3 linked regions of the Homo sapiens genome follow. The protein of the gene in region 3 purifies or fractionates together with the protein of the main gene of each other region. This does not show direct contact. Each region holds a gene or a part of one and is shown on either strand. Other genes may lie near its edges. The genes, in order: OCIAD2, WHAMM and ZFYVE1.

The links.
Region 1: the proteins of ZFYVE1 (region 3) and OCIAD2 purify together in Homo sapiens (affinity purification with mass spectrometry, with the first as the bait; one study listed by BioGRID). This does not show direct contact.
Region 2: the proteins of ZFYVE1 (region 3) and WHAMM purify together in Homo sapiens (affinity purification with mass spectrometry, with the first as the bait; one study listed by BioGRID). This does not show direct contact.

The regions. Positions count from the first base shown.
Region 1 is NC_000004.12:48,904,548-48,908,298, forward strand, and holds the start of OCIAD2 (OCIA domain-containing protein 2), read right to left. Parts: upstream 2,228-3,751; 5' UTR 2,111-2,227; intron 88-2,110; exon of another isoform or gene 65-87; 5' UTR 3-64; coding exon 1-2. UniProt on the Homo sapiens protein: Has an essential role in the assembly of mitochondrial respiratory chain complex III. Is also required for STAT3 activation and plays a role in cell migration.
Region 2 is NC_000015.10:82,833,581-82,836,712, reverse strand, and holds the end of WHAMM (WASP homolog-associated protein with actin, membranes and microtubules), read right to left. Parts: 3' UTR 605-3,132; downstream 1-604. UniProt on the Homo sapiens protein: Acts as a nucleation-promoting factor (NPF) that stimulates Arp2/3-mediated actin polymerization both at the Golgi apparatus and along tubular membranes. Its activity in membrane tubulation requires F-actin and interaction with microtubules.
Region 3 is NC_000014.9:72,972,004-72,975,232, forward strand, and holds part of ZFYVE1 (zinc finger FYVE domain-containing protein 1), read right to left. Parts: intron 2,957-3,229; coding exon 2,776-2,956; intron 2,191-2,775; coding exon 2,077-2,190; intron 1-2,076. UniProt on the Homo sapiens protein: Plays a role in the formation of lipid droplets (LDs) which are storage organelles at the center of lipid and energy homeostasis. Regulates the morphology, size and distribution of LDs.

The sequences.
Region 1 (3,751 bases), on a different chromosome or scaffold from region 3:
ATGATGACTTTGTGCTTGCTCTCCTTCCAGTTGTTTATCCTCTGCTTACTCCTTGACCCAGTGTCTAAGGAAGGTAGAAGAGAATCACTATGCCATGACTAAATGTTTGCATCAAGCTTAAAAGCATCCTGAGGATCCACTGGAGTTATTTGGAAAATGTGTTTTTCCTTTTGTCATTAGTCCATCTGCAAACTCAACTTCCAGTGCTCCTCTTCCACCAGCACACATACATGCACTCACTAATGGGGACAGATCAGATTTAGAATAGAGTGGAAATACCACACTGTGCACTGAGTGTCGATTATGTGCCAGGCCAGGGGATATGAAGAAGGATAAGACAAGATCACCGCTGTGAAGGAATTCACAGTCCAAAAGGGGAGATAGACAAGTCAACAGTTACACAACATGAAAAGTATGCATGGGATGCTAAGGAAGAAAAGAAAGCAGGGTCCATTCCATCTAGTCATGTCACAAAGGAACTAGGACTCCTAAGCTTTCAGGAGGATCTGTGGAGGGTAGATGGACTCTGGGGCAGGAGGACCAGGTTGGAAGGTGGTACACTAGTCCAGACAAGGAGTTACAGGGACGTGAACAAAGACCCTGGTGGGAATTTAGCATCTTTGATAGAGATGCTAAATTTGGGTTTGGAAATGTTGGATTTGGGTGCCTGTGGGGGCAAACAGTGGAATTAGCCACTGTTAATATTTGACGATTTGGGTCTAGAGTTCCAGAACAGGGGTAGGCTAGAGAGATGAAGTTGGGAGCTGCCATCATAGAGATGAGAGTTAAAGCAGGGAACTTTAATAAATGTGTCTAAAAACAGTACTGGAGAATATGAACACTGAGCCCAAGGGAATATCGAAAAGAGAAGAAAGATTAAAAAAAAAAAAGCAGGCCAAGGAAATGACTGAGAAGGAATAGCTGATACAGAGGGGAGGGAATTTCTGAAGGAGGGAGTGAATCATCAACACCATCACATGGCTTAGAAAAGTGGACCCTGGATTTGGCAATGATGGACATAATCCAGGTGGACTTTGAGCCTCCTCCTGCCCCCAGTGGCCACTGCATTCTGCAGCCCTGAACTCTACCTCTACCTCTGCTTTTCTTCTGCAAAATGAACCTCTTATATACAATTCTGTTTCCTACATCAGTTACTAAACTTTGAGGCATTTGAGCCAAGGGGACCCGTACTCGCACCAAGTTTCATCACAGGTGTCTAATGTGATTACAGGGGCAGCACGGTGCCCTGCACGGGAAAGTACTGGGGTCAGAGAGACCAGAGTTCAAATCGTGACTCTTTACCCCTGCGATCCCTTTGGTGCAAATGACTTAATCCGTCTCTGCCTCAGCTTTCTCCACTGTTAATTGGGCATAATGGACACAACAATGGTGAGGGGCTCTTGCAGGAATGAAGACTAGGATGAGGATGAGGATGAGGGATACGTCCATAAAGCCCCTGCACACCTTCCATTTCCTGAGCACTCCCAGGAAGTCTTTGCTGACCACGCCAAATTAGATTATCTTTGCTTAGCCATTAGGCCGCTGCCCTATATTGGGAGGCAAATATACCTCTCAGCTTCGGTGGCCAGGTCCCCTGGCACCCACTTAGTCCTCAGTCTGCACCTAAAAGCAAGCCTTCCGAGGGTCTTGCCTTGCAGGTGTAGCTCCCACCCCCCACGCTGGGGTGGTCCGGGGACCCTCTGTTTCCTCAGTGGTGGGGAAGGGACCCGTGGGTTCGTGGGTGCTGACCGACGAATGTGCGGAGGAGGGCGCGCCCCAGCATGGGGGGCGGGGGTGCTTCTTAGGATGGCTTGGAGGGGGGCGCCTGCAGGGCTGGACGGCGGACGGGGGACACTGCACTTTCTGATGCGGTCGGGGAAGCCGGGAGTCAGCCTACTGGAGTCCGCTGCCATCCCTGGCCAGAAGCAGCCAGCGCCACCCCAAGCTCCCCAGCCCCTCGCCCGTGCCGGGGCCGCCGGGGTCCGAGTTAGGGGAGAGTGGGGGGCGGCCACCGCTGCACCGCGCGGCCTTCGAAGGACTGCCCTGCGGCGCCGCGTTCCCCCGAGGCCACCCCCTCCCGCCGTCAACACTCCCCGGGGCGGGGGCTCACCTGTGTGGTCTGGGTCGCCTCCGAGGCCGAGTCCCTCGTTGCCAAGCCCAGCAGGCCTCGCTCCCCCGTGACTGCACCGCCGGCCCGCTCCAGCTTCCCGAGTACCCCACCTGTCTCCCCGGCTTCCTTCCGGCCCTTTGTGTTTTCTTCTCTTGCTCCGCCCCCTCGCCTGCCCGCTAAGCACTTAAGCTGGTGAAGTCACCCTACTGCCACCTGGCAGTCACTTTCGCTGTTGGTGGCAACCCAGGCTGGAACCCAGCTCTTGCCGGAACCCCTGCCCCATCCTTGAGGCTTGTCCCGACACCGAGTAGGTTCTAGTTCCTTTGTGCCTTCCAAATGACTCCCTTCCTCCAGCAATCACAGCCGCAACAGCCATGTATTGCGCCCCCGCCCTAGGCCAGGCGTGGGCATCACCTTTGCACTCCTTTCTGCAGCCGTGTGTGGTGCCCACTGTGACCTGCACTTCACAGACGGGTCATCTGAGTTGTGCAGGCCACTAAGGGAGCCTGGAGTCAACCCCAGGCCTGCTTGGCTCCCAGGCCTTCTCTTTCCATTGCTCTTTGTCGGTCCCCTGCTGCCTCCTGTCCCTCCCCAACTCTGACTTGTGGAGGGAAGCCTTTGACATGTGGGGGTACCTTTAATACCGATATCACTTGTTACCGGAGAGGGGTCCCGATCCAGACCCCAAGCGAGGGTTCTTGGACTTCTCGCAAGAAAGAATTCGGGGTGAGTCCGTAGAGTGAGAGCAAGTTTATTAAGGAAGTATAGAAAACAGGCCGGGTGCGGTGGCTCACGCCCATAATCCCAACACTTTGGGAGGCAAAGGCAGGCAGATCACTTGAGCTCAGGAGTTCAGACCAGCCTGGCCAACATGGTGAAACACTCTCTCTACTAAAAATACGAAAAGTTAGCCAGGCATGGTGCTCTATGCCTGTAATCCCAGCTACTCGGGAGGCTGAGGCAGGAGAATCGCTTGAACTCCGGAGGCAGAGGTTGCAGTGAGCCGAGATTGCGCCACTGCACTCCAGCTTGGGCGACAGAGCCAGACTCTGTCTCAAAAAAAAAAAAAACAAAAAAAAAACAAAAAACAAGAAGAACAACAACAAAAAAGAATGGCTACTCCACTGGCAGAGCAGCTGTGTGGGCTGCTTAGCTAATTATACTGGTAGTTATTTCTTGATTCTATGCTAAACAAGGGGTGGATTATTCATGAATTTTCCAGGAAAAGGGTGGGCAATTCCCGGAACTGAGGGTTCCTTCACTTTTTAGACCATATAGGGTAACTTTCTGACGTTGCCATGGCACTTGTAAACTGTCATGGCCCTGGTGGGAGGGTCTTTTATCAGGCTAATGCATTAAAATTAGCATTTAATGAGTAATGAGGACGACCAGAGGTCACTTTCATGACCATCTTGATTTTGGTGGGTCTTGGCTGGCTTCTTTACTGAGTCCTGTTTCATCAGCAAAGTCTTTGTGACCTGTACCTTGTGCCAACCTTCTATCTCATCCTGTGACTAAGAATGCTGAACCACCTGGGAAGGCAGCCCAGTAGGTTTCAGCCTTATTTTACTCAGTCCCTATTCAAGATGGAGTGGCTCTTGTTCAAACACCTCTGGACACAGTTACCCCAGCCATGGCTGA
Region 2 (3,132 bases), on a different chromosome or scaffold from region 3:
GTCTGACTGGCCTAGCTCAATGCTTTTCACTCCAGGACAATCCATAGGATTGGCTGTACTAGGAGCAGATGCCAGTCCTCCTTTGTACCAGACTCCCAAGACAAAGTACATGGCTGTATAGGAGAGAGAGGTCAGAGAAGACCTGGCGGAAAAGGCTGTGGGGTTGAGACCTAAGGATGGGCATGGGTTTGCCAGGACATGAAGGGTGCAGGGAGAATTCCAGGCACTTAAGAGAGCAGGCCCTTTGGGGGCAGGCAGGAAGCAGCATGGTATTGCTGGACTAAAACCTGTGGCAGGGGCAGGGGCTGCCCAGGGGAGGCAACCAAGTCTCTGAGGGTTTTGTCTGCCAGGCTGAGGGGCTGCCCTTCCTGTGTGGGCTGGAAAGCCAGGGAGAGGTGAAGACTGGCAGTGCTTTGGAGGCCGACTGGAGAGCTCTGAAGCTGGGCAATAGGAGACACTTGTCCCCACTTCCTTGGCTCTGAATTCCCTGAAGCCAAAGTCTGGATTGACTTCAAGGCTTGGCTGGAAAAAGCAGGAAAAGGGAGAAAGGAAGGAGAGAAGGTTCCAGAGGAGGAAAGGAAGCGTTGATGCACAGAAGACACAATTGGGCCAGGAATTTTTATTGTGAGAACGTTCTTTTGAAAAGGATCCTTTTTTCAAAGGCCTCTTGTGTTTGGCAGCCCTTAGAAAGCAAATTCTGAGAATTATTTTAGCCTGATTAAGCTCGCTGGTATCTCAAAATACTGAAATTATAAATACGTAATTACAAACAATGCCAAACTGCAAAATATGCATAAGAAAAGTCCCACAAAGTTGTGATTTTGCTACTTTTTCAATTCCAAATTCTTTCCCTAGGAAGTTTGATGCTGAGCCTGGCCTGTCTGTGGTGGGGAAGGAGGCCTGGGCCACAGCCACTGGACCTGTCTCTGGGATCTGGACCTGATGCCCAGCGAGTAGCCCGCAGGTTGCGTCCCCCACTGGAACACCCCTGGGAACCTGGGTGGGAGCGGCAGGTACAGGGGCCAGTGCAGAGTCAGGGCTTGGCCCATCAGGCCTGGGCCAGCACAGTGAGGCACATTCATTCATACACAGGAGTTGGATTTGCATTCTGAAAAGGTAGCACACATGACAGACCCGTGGGCAACCTGGCAGTGGCTGGGAAACCTGGCAGTGGCCATGCCACAGAGGGAGACCCAGGCTGCAGCTGCTGAAAGGGACTCACGCCCCTCCCAGCTGTGCCAACTGAGGCCCCTCAGGCTGCTGTGTACCAGTTAGTTAAGACACTGGAAGGCCAGGTGTGGTGGCTCACGCCTGTAACCCCCAGCATTTGGGAGGCCAAGGTGGGAGGATCACGAGGTCAAGAGATCGAGACCATCCTGCCAACATGGTGAAACCCCATCTCTACTAAAAATATAAAAATTAGCTGGGTGTGGTGGCACACGCCTGTAGTCCCAGCTACTCGAGAGGCTGAGGCAGGAGAATCACTTGAACCCAGGAGGCAGAGGTTGCAGTGAGCTGAGATCGTGCCACCGCACTCCAGCCTGGTTGACAGAGCAAGACTCTGTCTCAAAAAAAAAAACAAAAAAACTGAAGTAGGAAGATTTCTGTTCTATATCAATCAGGACTTTCTTTGTAAACGAGGTGCGTTCCTTTTGTTCTGTGGAGACCCAGGAGTAATATCACCAGAGTGAGGGTGATGAGGTTAGTAGGGATGCTCGCAGTCTGAGAAATGAACGGACTGCTTTGCATCAGTCCCTTCCCCTTCCCTGATTTTAAAAATTTAATTTTAAGGAGAAAATACTTCAGCATGAGACTTCAGTTCCTGAGGAAAATAACACTATTGCTCCATCCTTAGTATTCACTTAAACAAATGTTTAGCTAAAATTTTATTAAAAACTTTCAGCCCACCCGGACACGGAAGACTTTGCTTTTACAGCAGCTAAGGTATGTTTTCATTACCCCGTGAGTGATGCTAATGCATTGCAAATAGTTATTATGAGTTTATGTAGTGCTTGGTGCCTAAAATAAATTTCATTTAAATATTTAAAATAACTCCTGAATATAAGCAATTTATTCTGATTACTGATAAAATAACATTCACATTCAAGCCTACAAATCTGAGAAATCATTATTCCATATGCACAGAAGGCCACAGTCAGTAGTCTAATAGTACTGCTTACCAGTGTAGTGTAAACTTCTTTCAGAATCAGGGAACAATTCTAGATCAGCCATGGTGAGAAATAAGTGCTCTTCTCTTAGGCCAGCGACACTTCCGATGGGTCTTGACATCCCACCTATGGGCTGGTGTGTGAAACTCTCATCTCTACGTCCCTCCCCAGTTTTAAGAGTCACCATGTCACATAAAAGCTCCAGCATCAGCCAGGCACGGTGGCTCATGCCTATAATCCCAACACTTTGGGTGGCCAAGGCAGGTGGATCACGAGGTCAGGAGTTCAAGACCAGCCTGGCCAACATAGCGAAACCTTGTCTCTACTTAAATATACAAAAATTAGCCAGGCGTGGTGGTGCATGCCTGTAATCCCAGCTACTCGGGAGGCTGAGACAGAGAATTGCTTGAACCTGGGAGGTGGAGGTTGCAGTAAGCCAAGATCGTGCCACTGCACTCTAGCCTGGATGACAGAGAGATTCTGTCTCAAAAGAAAGAAAAAAAAAAGGCTGGGCGTGGTGGCTCACACCTGTAATCCCAGCACTTTGGGAGTCTGAGGCAGGCGGATCACGAGGTCAGAAGATCGAGACCATCCTGGCTAACACGGTGAAACCTCGTCTCTACTAAAAAATACAAAAAATTAGTTGGGCAAGGTGGTGGCGCCTGTAGTCCCAGCTACTCGGGAGGCTGAGGCAGGAGAATGGCGTGAACCCAGGAGGCGGAGCTTGCAGTGAGCCAAGATCGCACCACTGCACCCCAGCCTGGGAAGCGGAGCTTGCGGTGAGCCGAGATGGCGCCACTGCACCCCAGCCTGGGCGACAGAGTGAGACTCCATCTCAAAAAAGAAAAAAAAAAAAAATGCTGCAGCAGCCTACACAAGGCCCTGCTGATCTTCCGGGGTGTTATGTGGCCCATCTATCAGCACCCTGTTAGTATGCTTTTCGATAGGTCTAAGACTCACCCAC
Region 3 (3,229 bases):
TCAAGGTCAGGAGTTCGAGACCAGCCTGGCCAACATGGTGAAACCCTGTCTCTACTAAAAATACAAAAATTAGCCGGGCGTGGTGGTATAACCCCAGCTACTTGGAAGCCTGAGGCATGAGAATCGCTTAAACCTGGGAGGTGGAGGTTGCAGTAAGCCAAGATCACACCACTGCACTCCAGCCTGGACAATAGCGAGAGTCAGTCTCAAAAAAAAAAGAAAGGTTAGCTAACCTCTCAGGGGCTTACTCATCTTTAACAACCCACCTTCAAGAACTGTGATGAGGATGAGAAGAAAGAACATGCCTGACACACTGGCCTGGTACTCAACACCCTGTGGGCGCTCAGAATGGGAGCACTTGGTGAGCACAGCCAGCAGGCTATGCTCTGCCTTCTGTGCCAAGGACAGTTCTTGCCTCTCCCAGGTACCCCTGGGGACAGATGCAACCTGAGATTTAAGCTTGGGCAAATCCAGCAATTCCTACATCATCTACTCACTTTGTGAGCTGCAATGAGGAAATCTGCTCCAGGCCATTTTCATCACTACTCACTTTTGCTCGCTCCCCTACAATGTGCCACGCTGCCCCAGGCCTGGCCAGCCTTGCGTAAGCCTGCCAAGCACTGGTTGATTTCCCTCCCTCTCCCCCTCGCCATCCTAAATACAAATACCCCTCACATCCAGGGCTGGGTAGCTATTTTAAATCTTCTTTTTTTTTTTTTTTTGAGACAGAGTCTCGCTCTGTTGCCCAGGCTGGAGTGCAGTGGTGCGATCTCGCCTCACTGCAAGCTCCACCTCCCGGGTTCATGCCATTCTCCTGCCTCAGCCTCCCTAGTAGCTGGGACTACAGGTGCCCGCCACCACGCCTGGCTAATTTTTTTGTATTTTCAGTAGAGACGGGTTTTCACCGTGTGTTGGCCAAGACTGATCTCTTGACTTCGTGATCCACCTGCCTTGGCCTCCCAAAGTGCTGGTATTATAGGCGTGAGCCACGGTGCCCGGCCAGCTATTTTAAATCTTAAACTACTAACAGTTTGGCTGGTGTGACAGACTAAAGACAGCCATAGAATCTTTCACCCACTTTCCATCTTTGACACTCCTGCCCCCTCCCTTGAATCTAGACAAACCTGTGACGGCAGCAGACTCCAGGAGATGACAGCAGAAGTGCCTGTCTGCAGTCCTAGGCCTCAAGAGATGGGCAGCTTCAGCCAGGCACAGTGGCTCACGCCTGTAATCCCAGCACTTTGGGAGGCCAAGGCCGGTGGATCACCTGAGCTCAGGAGTTCGGGACCAGCCTGGTCAACATGGTGAAACCCCGTCTCTACTAAAAATACAAAAATTAGCTGGGCATGGTGGCACGTGCCTGTAATCCTAGCTGCTTGGGAGGCTGAGGTAGGAGAATTGCCTGAACCTGGAAGGCGGAGGTTGCAGTGAGCCAAGATCGCACCACTGTACTCCAGCCTGGGTGACAGAGTAAGACTCCATCTCAAAAAAACAAACAAACAAACAAACAAAAAAAAAGAGATGGGCAGCATCCACTTCCTGTCTCTTGGAACATTAACTCCTGGAACCCTGACATCATTTAAGAAGTGCCAAAGAAACCACTGAAGAGGCCTGGAGAATACAAAGACCGAGTGAGGCTCTGCTACACACAGCCTCCTAACTGTCCCTGCCAAGGCACCCAGCTTGTAAGTGAGGTCAGCTTGGACCCTTGAGACCACTCCAGCTACCACCCTGGAATATCAGGTAGTAACTAGAGCCAATGCCACTTGGAGCTGAATAATTACCCTTCCTGACTTCTAGACCTGCAAAGACATCAAAGATGGCTGTTTTAAGCCTTTACATTTTAAGGTAGCTCGTTACACAGCACTAGATGCTGTAAGAGAATGGCTTCCAGCAATAAACATGAAACTACTAAGGCATTCAGCAGAAGCAAGCAAATGTGTGGCATTGTGTAATTGATTCCTTTACCACCCATCTCAATCTAGGTTGGCAAGCCTTTACAAAGTGACAGCCCAGGGCACCTGAAACCCCTCAACCCGCATCCACTACCCCCAAGAGAAGCACTGCCAGGCCCACCTAGTGGTATGTCAATGGCTGTCACCACGGCTCCCAGAGTGTTCTGCACGGCCTCGCCCACCTTCCGAGCAATGAGCGTTCCACCTTCATCGTCCACTTGTGCCTCGGTAACAGCTGTAGACAGTAATAAAGGAAATGCTGTCACCTCTAAGTCCTCTCCCAAATGGAAAACTCAGGGACCAATAGCAGAACGCTTCTGGATTCTGATCCCAGACACCACTGTGCTGTCCTGCAACTACTGCAAGGGTCTGTGCTGTGGGTCAGGTCAGCCCAGACTCTGAAATTAGATGACATCTGTTAGTCCTTTAGCTGCAACCTTCTGGGGCTCCTTTATAACCCTTCTTTTAAAGTAAGGCAGAAAGGTTCTAGGAGCGAAAACTAGAACCTTCTCAAAGGAGAAGACTGGTCTAAGCCATCTCTGGTAAACACTGCAGCCTTTTCAGAATTCAGTTGCTATGTGCGCATTCCCTTCCCCCAGAAGCAACTCTGCAGCTAAGAATGCAGGACAGGTTCGAGCCCCTGAGGAACAGCACCCATAGGACGCTGTTAACAAGGAGCTTAGAGGCTGACTGGCCAAGACCAGAAGTACTCTCACAAGGGAGATGTGGATTAGGGCATCTGGATATCCAGTTCTTAGCACCCAGGGCCAATGTGGGAGGTTCTCCCCTCCACCCCTGCAGCTCCCAGGTCCCACGTTACCTAACTGGACGTTCCTGGCTTCGTAGCAGTTGTCACAGACCCGCACTGGCGCAGGGCCCCAGCCCCGCTCAGGCACTGGCCGAGTCTTTGATGAACAGCTGTCACAGAAGCCCTCCCCACAGGCTCGGCAGTGATGCTTAGTGTCGTTATCTTTAAAGGACGTCGCACACTTGTTGCAGCTCTGTTCCAAGCCCAAAACAAAACAGAGAGGCAGGTAGGTATGGTACATGTCTGCTCAGCTGAGAAAGTCAACAAGACCCCGGAGCAAGCAGAAACTAAGGCAGGTGGCGTTAGCTCAACAAGGACAAGAGCTTTCTAGTAACGCGTTATCTGAGAATGGAAAGGAAGCCTGGTGGACAGTGAGTTTCCTTTCACTAAGTGTCTGGGTTGAAGCTGGGTGCTCTCTTGCTCTGGGTGCTGTAGCGTTAATGGATCAAGCTGAGGATGACCCTAA